2 separate regions of the Homo sapiens genome follow, and region 2 is reported to be linked to region 1. The links are microRNA targets in miRTarBase. Many come from high-throughput screens and were not tested one by one. Region 1 holds a microRNA gene; the other region holds the end of a gene's coding sequence.

Region 1 (5,075 bases):
AAAAAAAAAAAAGTGTCTTTGTAGATGTGATTAAATTAAGGATCTCCAGATGAGGGGATCATCTTGGATTATCTGTGTGGAACCTAAATCCAATGACACGTGTCCTTATATGAGACACAGAGGAGAAGACACACAGAGCAAAGGAAATGTGAAAACAGGCAGGAGAAGTCTGGGCAACATGGCAAGAACCCATCTCTACAAAAACACAAAAATTAGCTGGGTGTGGTGGCATGTGCGTGTAGTCCCAGTTACTTGGGAGATTGAGGCAAGGGGGTCGCTTGAACCTAGGAGTTCGAAGCTGCAATGAGCTGAGACGGCACCACTGCACTCTAGCCTGGGCGACAGAGGGAGACCCTGTCTCAAAAACAAAAAGAAAGCAAACAGGCAGAGAATTGAGTGATGCGGCTGCAAGCCAGGAAACACCTAGAGGCACGAGAAGCTGGAAGAGGCAAGGAAGGGTCCTCCCCTGGCGCCTTCGGAGGGAACGTGGTAGTTCTAATGCTTTGATTTAGGACTTCTGGACTCCAGAACTGTGAGAGAATACGTTTCTGGGTTTTTGTTTTTTGTTTTGGGTTTTTGTTGTTGTTGTTGTTGTTTGGTACAGCATCTCACTCTGTTGCCCAGGCTGCAGGGCAGTGGTGCGATCATGGCTCACTGCAGCCTCGACCTCCCAGGCTCAAGCAGTCCTCCCACCTCAGCCTCCCAAGTAGCTAGGACTACAGGTGAACACCAGCACACCTGGCTAATTTAAAACAATGTGTTTTTTTGTTTGTTTTTTTTTTTTGAGACAGGGTCTCACTTTGTCCCCCAGGCTTGAGTGCAGTGGCAGGATTGTGGCTCACTGCAGCTTTGACCTCCCAGGTTCAAGCAATCCTCCTGTCTCAGCCCCCTAAGTAACTGGGGCTACAGGCACATGCCACCATGCCCAGCTAAATTTTTGTATTTTTTGTAGAGATGGGGTTTCTCCATGTTGCCCAGGCTGGTGTCCAACTCCTGAGCTCAAGCAATCCACCTGCCTTGGCCTCCCAAAGTGCTGGGATTATAGGACTGAGCCACCACACCTGACCTAAAAACTTTTTTTATAGAGATCGAGTCTCACTACACTGCCCAGGCTGGTCTCCAACTCCTGGGCTCAAGTGATCCTCCCTCTTCCACCTCCGAAAGTGTTGGGATTACAGGCGTGAGCCACTATGCCCAGCTAGTTTTGTTTCAAGTCACCAAGTTTGTGGCAATTCGTTATAGTAGCTACAGGAAATCAGCACACCTTTCCCTGCCTCCCTGTCTTTAACTTAGAAAGTGGACAGCAAGGCCAGGCGTGGCTCACACCTGTAATCCCAGCACTTTGGGAGGCCGAGGGGGGCAGATCACGAGGTCAAGAGATCGAGACCATCCTGGCCAACATGATGAAACCCCATCTCTACTAAAAATACAAAAATTAGCCAAGTGTAGTGGCACATGCCTGTAGTCCCAGCTACTTGGGAGGCTGAGGCAGGAGAATCGCTTGAACCCTGGAGGCAGAGGCTGCAGTGAGCCGAGATCACGCCACTGCACTCCAGCCTGACAACACAGCTAGACTCAATCTCAAAAAAAAAAAAAAAAAAAAAAGAAGAAGAAGAAAAAGGGGACAGCACTGGCCAGGCACAGTGGCTCACACTGTAATCCCAGCACTTTGGGAGGCCAACGTGGGTGGATCACCTGAGGTCAGGAGTTCGAGACCAGCCTGGCCAACATGGTGAACCTTTGTATCTACTAAAAATACAAAAATTAGCTGGGCATGGTGTCAGGTGCCTGTAGTCCCAGCTACTAAGGAGGCTGAGGCAGGAGAATTGCTTGAACCTGGGAGGCAGAGATTGAAGTGAGCTGAGATTTTGCCACCGCACTCCAGCCTGGGTGACAGAGCGAGAATCCGTCTCAATAAAAGAAAAAAGAAAAGAAAGGGGACAGCAATAATATGTCAGCTTCATTTGGGTTGTTGGAAGGATCCAGAAGGTTTAGAGTGCTTAGCACGTGTAAGGAACAAGGATGAGAAGGTTATGGCACAGACTCGAGGCCAGACTGCGCAGGTCTGACCCTGAATTTACCTTCACCAGCTGCCTGGCTTTGGGTGAGCCTTTTAACCTCTCTGTGCCTCAGTTTCCTCATTTGTAAAATAAGATAATAAAATTTACCTCTTAGGATGTTATAAGGCAGAAGTTCTGAAACTTTTTGGCCTCAGAGCCCCTTTACACTAAAACAATATTTAAAGAGTTTTTGTTTGTTTGTTTGTTTTTGTTTTTTTTTGTTTGTTTTTTTGAGACAGAGTCTCACTCTGTTGCCCAGGCTGGAGTGAAGAGGCATGACCTTGGCTCACTGCAACCTCCGTCTCCTGAGTTCAAGGAATTCTCGTGCCTCAGCCTCCCTAGTAGCTCGTATTACAGGCACGGGCCACACACCGGCTAATTTTTATATTTTTAGTAGAGACAGGATTTCACCATGTTGGGCAGGCTGGTCTCAAACTCCCGATCTGAGGTGATCCGCCCACCTCAGCCTCCCAAAGTGCTAGGATTACAGGCGTAAGCCACTGTGTCTAGCCTTGAAAGAGCTTTTGTTAGGTGAGTTATATCTGCTCATATCTACTGTAAATAGAAATTTATAATCCCAGCTAACTCAGGAGGCTGAAGTGGGAGGACCGCTTGAGCCCAGGAGTTTGAGGCTGCAGTGAGCTACGATCGCACCACTGCACTACCTTGGGCAACAGAACTAGACCCTGAAAAGAAAGAAAGAAAGAAAGAGAGAGAGAGGGAGGGAGGGAGGGAGGGAGGGAGGGAGGGAGGGAGAGAGAAAGAGAGAGAAAGGAAAGAAAGAAAGAAAGAAAGAAAGAAAGAAAGAAAGAAAGAGAAAGGAAAGGAAAGGAAAGGAAGAAAGAAAGGGGAGGGGAGGGGAGGGAAGGGAAGAAGAAGAAAAAGAAAAGAAAAGAAAAGAAATTTAAACTGATGCTTTAAAAAATATTAATTAAAAAATAGTCCGGGAGGATGGCTTATGCCTGTAATCCCAGCACTTTGGGAGGCTGAGGCAGGCAGATTGCCTGAGGTCAGGAGTTCGAGATCAGTCTGGCTAACATGGTGAAACCCCCTCTCTACTAAAAATACAAAAAAATCGGCCAGGCATGGTGGCATGCGCCTGTAATCCTAGCTACTTGGGGGCTGAGGCAGGGAAATTGCTTGAACCTGGGAGGTCGAAGCTGCAGCGAGCTGAGATCGAGCCACTGCACTCTAGCCTGGCGACAGAGGGAGACTCTGTCTCCAAAAAAAAAAAAAAAAATTAGTAAACACATTACACGTTAACATAAATTTTTTTAACTTTTTATTTTTTTAGAAACAGTCTACCTACATTGCTCAGGCTAGACTAGAACTCTTGAACTCAAGGGATCCTCCCACTGGAGTAGCTGGAACTACAGGCTCACGCCACCGTGCTAGATAACGTATGAGTTTTTTTGTTGTTTTTGAGACAGGGTCTCCCTATGTCACCCAGGTTGGAGTGCAGTGGTGTAATCACAGCTCACTGCAACCTCTGCTCCCTGGGACTCAAGTCATCCTTCCACCTCAGTCTCCCGAGTAGCTGGGACTACAGGCACTTGCCACCAGAGTCGGGTAATTTTTATTTAATTAATTAATTAATTTATTTATTTATTTATTTTGAGACAGAGTCTCGCTTTGTCACCCAGGCTGGAGTGCAGTGGCACGATCTCGATCTCAGCTCACTGCAACCTCTGCCTCCCGGGTTCAAGTGATCCTCCTGCCTCAGCCTCCTGAGTAGCTGGGATTACAGGCGCCTGCCACCACGCCTGGCTAATTTTTTTTTTTTTTTGTATTTTTAGTAGAGATGAGGTTTCACCATGTTGGCCAGGCTGATCTTGAACTCCTGACCTCAACTGATCTGCCCCCCTTGGCCTCCCAAAGTGCTGGGATTACAGGCATAAGTCACTGCAACCAGACTTTTTTTTAAATAGAGACGGGGTTTTGCCATGCTGCCCAGGCTGGTCTCGAAATCTTGGGCTCAAGTGATCCTCCAGCCCTGGCCTCCCAAAGTGCTAGGATTACAAGCATGAGCCACTGTGGCCAGGAGTATTTATTTTTATTTTTTATTTTTCTGAGACAGAGTTTCGCTCTGTCGCCCAGTTTGGAGCATAGTGGTGTGATCTCAACTCACTGCAACCTCTGCCTCCCAGGCTCAAGGGATCTTCCCACCTCAGCCTCCCAAATACCTGGGACTACAGGCTCTCACCACCACGTCTGGCTAATTTTTTTATTTTACTTTTTTTTTTTTCTTTTTTTTTTTTGAGACGGAGTTTCGCTCTTGTTGCCCAAGCTGGAGTGCAGTGGCACGATCTTGGCTCACTGCAACCTCTGCCTCCCAGGCTCAAATGATTCTCGCGCCTCAGCCTCTTGAGTAGCTGGGATTACAGGCACATGCCACCATGTCTGGCTAATTTTTGTATTTTTAGTAGAGGCGTGGTTTCACCATGTTGGCCAGGCTGGTCTCGAACTCCTGAGCTCTAGAAATTTTCCCACCTCGGCCTCCCAAAGTGCTGGGATTACAGGCGTGAGCCACCCCGCCTGGCCTTAATTTTTTTTTTTTTACTATTTATTTATTTATTTATTGTATTATATTATTATTTTGAGATGGAGTCTTGCTCTGTCACCCAGCCTGCAGTGCAGTGGCGCGATTTCGGCTTGCTGCAACCTCCGCCTCCCGGGTTTAAGCAACTCTCTGCCTCAGCCTCCTGAGTAGCTGGGATTACAGGCATGCGCCACCATGCCCGGCTAATTTTTGTATTTTTAGTAGAGACGGGGTTTCACCACCTTGGCTAGGCTGGTCTTGAACTCCTGACCTCGTCCACCTCAGTCTCCCAAAGTGCTGGGATTACAGGCGTGAGCCACCGCGCCCGGCCAACTTTTAGATTTTTAATCAATACGTGCCACGTTGGGGTGCGCTTTATGGCTACAAGGGCATTAAGATTTCTTCCCTCAAGGAGCCAAGATCTGACGGTGGAAACCTACCTGCAACCACACGGTGAAAACTCAGGATGCTAAGAG
Region 2 (5,075 bases), not on the chromosome of region 1:
CATCTGAGGATGAGAGGGAAGGTAAAATATATCGTCAGAAACTAAAACTGCACTATTGACAATATTAGGAGTTTTACAAAAATTATAAGAAATACTATGTACAACTCTATAGCAATATATTCAGAAAAAGGGAATGGTTGATTTTCTTGAAAAGTATAAATTATCCAAATTGTTTCCTGAGAAAGTAGCAAACCTGAAAAGATAACTCTAAAGGAAATTGATAAAGCAATCAAAGAGCTATTTCCAAAGCAAACCCAGATAGTTGTATAAATGAGTTCAACACATCTTGCAGAAACGGCTAATTCCTTTATTATTCAAATTTGGGGGGGGGCATAGAAGATGATAAGCTTGCCAATTTATTTTATAAGGCTAGCAGAACCATACTCCTAAACCAAACTAAGATAATACAATTAAAAAACAAAATCAGGCTGGTACAGTGACTCATGCCTGTAATCCCAGCACTTTGGGAGGCCGAGTCAGGCAGATCACCTGAGGTTGGGAGTTCAAGACCAGCATGGCCAACATGGGGAAAACCCGTCTCTATTACAAATACAAAAATTAGCCAGGCGTGGTGGTGGGTGCCTGTAATTCCAGCTACTCGGGAGGCTGAGGTGAGAGAATCACTGGAACCCAGGAGGCGGAGGTAGCAGTGAGCTGAGATTGTGCCACTCTACTCCAGCCTGGGTGACAGAGTGAGGCTCTGCCATAAATAAATTAAAATAAAATAAAAACAAAGTCACACATTATTCATGAATACAGATCCAAAACTTTTTGAAGTTTGACAAAATGAACAAATAGAATTCTAGAATACATGTACTGTGACATGTAATTCTCAGGATGCAATGTTTTAGGTTTAGAGAGCCTATTCAAAGTTTTATGTGTTGAATCCTCCTTTTCCTTATTCAATTAACAGACGTTCTTCCTTTCATCAAAAAGTTTCACTGTTAAATATATGCCAGGCACTGGATCCTGGGAATGCAGTGATGAATAAGATAAGGTCTGTCTTCATAGAGCTGTCTACAGAGACAGACAAGTAAAAAGAAAATTATAATACAGTCTAAAGGCTATGATAAAAGAAAAAGATATTTGGGGAATACATAACTTGGCACTGAATCTGGATTTCAGAGCTCTGGAAAGGCTTTCTAGAGGAAGTAATGCATAGATTGAGCAGTGAAGGGCAGTTACTATGAGAACTAAAGTGGGGAAGTCATCAGAGGAGACTGAAGTAGCACATGCCAAATAGGGGTCATATTAAGTTGAGAATTTTGTACTTAAGTCAGAGGCCACTGAAGCTTTATTCAGGCGAGTGACAGATTTACATCTTCAATTCTTAAGAGTGTGGAATAAATTTGAGGAAAGAAGACTGGAAGCAGGAAAACATTAGGGTGTTCTTGGAATAATCCTCTTGAGAAAATTGCCTACTCTAAGATGGTAGCAGTAGGTATGGGGAAAGTGGGCACACACAACATAATTAGAAAGTGGTATAAAAATTTTATTTTAGATGGGGAAAGGTAGAAAATACTAGGTTAAGTATAAAGGGATTTCTTTACCTATAGTACTTGTCAGAAATTTTATGGTGCTGTTTTTGAGTAAAAGAAAGTCACACAGTAACACAAAATGGCTTCCAAACATTTGATTTTTTTTTTCTTTTTTTTAGAAGACTTTATGAGACACTAGCATTCCACAGGAAACACTATGGGAGAAACTGTTCTCCCACAAAAATAATCTCTTCTTCCTTTCTGTTCTTGCAGCTGTCAATATAGATGAAGCATCCCAAATCTGAAATCTGAAATGCTCCAAAATATGAAACTTTTTGAGTGCCAATACAGATGTGACACTCAGGGGAAAGGCTCATTGGAGCACTGTGGATTTCCGGACCTGGGATGCTCAACTGGCAAGCATTAATGCAAATATTCCAGAACCCAAAACACTTCTCAAGCATTTTGAATAAGGGATGCTCAAACCTGTACTTCTGAGTTGTCTCACCAACTATATTCAATTTTTTAAGGCTGTCTTGTCCTGTCCCTTTACACAATACATGTATTTAGTTTGGTTACTTTCAGCTCACTGAAAGTGAAGTGAAAAAGAAGATTCACCAGAACTTCACAAGCTTCCCTCAAAAAGCCATTGAAAAAGATTATTCTGAGTCAGGGTCATCTGTTAACCAATATAAAAGGATCCGACCCACAGATAACGTTGTAATAAAGCAGTATTAGGCCAGGCGCGGTGGCTCACACCTGTAATTCCAGCACCTCGGTAGGCCAAGGTAGGTGGATCACTTGAGGTCAGGAGTTTGAGACCAGCCTGGCCAATGTGGTGAAACCCCATCTCTACTAAAAATACAAAAACTAGCCAGGCGTGGTGGTGGGTGCCTGTAATCCCAGCTACTCGGGAGGCTAAGGCAGGAGAATCACTTGAACCCGGGATATGGAGGTTGCAGTGACCTGAGATCCCGCCATTGCACTCTAGCCTGGGTGTCGTAGCAAGACTCTGTCTCAAAAAAAAAACAAAAACAAACATGCAGTATTAATCTTCGTTAACATCTACAAACCTACTAAGTTTTCATATGGATAAGATACCCAAAAATAATAATCTCATTGGAAACAAATTCTGTGAAAATGCTTAAGCAAACAAATTGTTTATCTTAATTCTATAGTGAGTAGTTGAATAGCTACATTTACTTAGAAACAGAAAAACTGAATTCATTTATAAACAGGAAATCTAAGTGTACTTTAACTCCTAGAGACCACTGAGGGTAACTAAAGTACTCCAAGCTATAATCGAGGGGTCACTGAAAATCTGATTGTGAAACATCATGCTCTATATGTACAAAAGATGTATTTCAGGATGCTCAAAATTAAAGAACTGATATTCTAAACAGCAGGCAATCAGTGAATAAAAGTATGTTAATTCTTTGTGTACAATGTCTCTGAAGTCAGTGACATAAAAAAAAAAAAATAACACACACCCTTCCTTTTATATTTTCAGTATATTAAAAAGGAACAGTACAAATGCTGTGGTATTAAAAAGGATCCTTATTTTTCAACAAATGAACTTTTATAAACAATTCTGTAATGAAATGAAAACAGTATCTTAATACAAGCTTTTGTTAAACAAGATTTTAAAATTTTAAAATTAGAAAACGTTAAGATTAAACTCTTTCAAAGGTTCAAACAAAAAAACAACCTGTACAATCTCCATTACATGTGTCTTTGTACACAGTCTGGGCACTTTGAAAATGTTAAAGTTTTTAACGTTTGACTGACAGAAGCAGCACTTAAAGGCTTCATGAATCTATTTTCCAAAAAAGTATGCTTTCAGTAAAACATTTTACCATTTTATCTAACTATGCACTGACATTTTTGTTCTTCCTGAAAAGGGGATTTATGCTAACACTGTATTTTTAATGTAAAAATATACGTGTAGAGATATTTTAACTTCCTGAGTGACTTATACCTCAAATGGGATTTAATGAACAATTTCTAAATTTTAGAATGAAACAGTATGTGTAAATCTACACATGTATGTTCAACTAGGGTAAAGCTCAAGAGCATGTCACAGAATTTATACCTAAATTATATAAGAAGTTAAGCAATGCCTTTATCCCCAAACTTTACCAATAAGCCTTCTCAAATAGAATGTTAGTAAAGTGAATCACTGAAAAGTTTCATTTTTGAATTAACTAAAATACCAGTAGCCATTTTAGACTGTCAACCTGGATGTTTTCTTGATTCACTAGCAAGAAATTTCTTGCAATACAAAAAGATAACAAATAATTAAAATATCTGCTTTATCATACAACTTCACCCCCTCCTAAAGTGTCTAAAATGATTAGGAATTGTAGCACTTTCTTTTGCATAAAACCCTTTCCTCTTCATAAAACCCTGAGGTGAAAGGTTATTAATGTAATAAAACCGCAATTCATTTTGTATTAAACTGTAGCTTTAAAAAAATTTATAAAGAAATGTGACAACTTGTAAAGCTGCTCTGTACAGTTTTTCAACAAAATATTTCCATATCAACTTAGTCAAAGGGCCTAAAATGACCCTATAAAAACAATGTCCTTTTAACATGTGTTAGTGTCGAGATGAGCGCCATTTTCCATCTCTACTACTGTCTCTTCTGTTATCATAGTCATGGCTCCAGTCATCATGATTCCTGTCTTCATAGAAGAAATCATCTCTCTTTCCTCTGTAATGATGGTCAGACCCATGATCAGTGTAACGCTGTTCCCGGCTATAATGTCTATCTGCTAGGTAGGGATAAGAATTCATTCTGACTTTACGCTGTGATGATGGTGTACCTTGGCGCCACTGGGAGCTTGAAGACTGATTGAAACTATGACTGTGTGATTGAACTGATGGTGAAAATCCTGATTGATCCAGAGGTGAAGAACCAAATTTTCCACCATATGACATTTGTCTCAAAGCACTGTTCATCTGAGGAATAGGAAAAGTGGAAATGTTAATACTTCTAGATATCAAAGCTAATATGTATTTGGTCAGTTAACAGAAAATGAAAGAAAATAAAGTCACTCTTGCCTAGATGGATCCACAACTAAAGCAGTACAATAGCTTCAATCATTCCAATGTATACCTACAAGATACATATATATACATAAATACTACTCTTTGTCCTCAAGAATGCAACTCAGAATAAGTCACACAAAATGACTATAATGCAAAATCACTGTGTAAAAAACAAAGAATCAGGAGATCAGTATCATTAGGAAAGGTTTCATGAAGGTGGCATATGATCTGGGTATTAAAACAATGGATGGAATATTTTCATATTTTAAGGGAGAGATATGCCAAGAAAAGGAAATTGCACAAACAAAAATAACAGGGAAACACAGAACAGGTTCATAGAATACCAAGTAATTCTTTGAGACAGGTTACAGATCTCGGCTCACTGCAAGCTCCACCTCCCGGGTTCAAGCGATTCTCCTGCCTCAGCCTCCCAAGTAGCTGGGACTACAGGCCTGTGCCACCACGCCCGGCTAATTTTTGTATTTTTAGTAGAGACGGGGTTTCACCATCTTGGCCAGGCTGGTCTCGAACTCCTGACCTCGTGAT

What was found. The annotated mature microRNA hsa-miR-3908 reads GAGCAAUGUAGGUAGACUGUUU and lies in region 1 at 3,355-3,376, opposite strand. An mRNA with a match to its seed (bases 2 to 7 or 8) in the 3' UTR can be bound and repressed. Matches are read on the target gene's strand: a 7mer-m8 pairs with bases 2 to 8, a 7mer-A1 pairs with bases 2 to 7 and ends in A, and an 8mer does both.
Region 2: miRTarBase lists RBM7 as a target of hsa-miR-3908. Seed matches in the 3' UTR shown: 7mer-m8 at 3,591-3,597.

What each region holds. Positions count from the first base shown.
Region 1 is chr12:123,534,714-123,539,788 of GRCh38, reverse strand. MIR3908 (microRNA 3908) reads right to left here and starts at 3,380; the gene lies at 3,255-3,380.
Region 2 is chr11:114,406,809-114,411,883 of GRCh38, reverse strand. RBM7 (RNA binding motif protein 7) reads right to left here. Exons shown (of 5, transcript NM_001286045.2): 5 at 1,277-4,439. The coding sequence ends at 4,077. Among named protein-coding and RNA genes, the nearest start is that of RBM7, 8.7 kb to the right of the region's middle.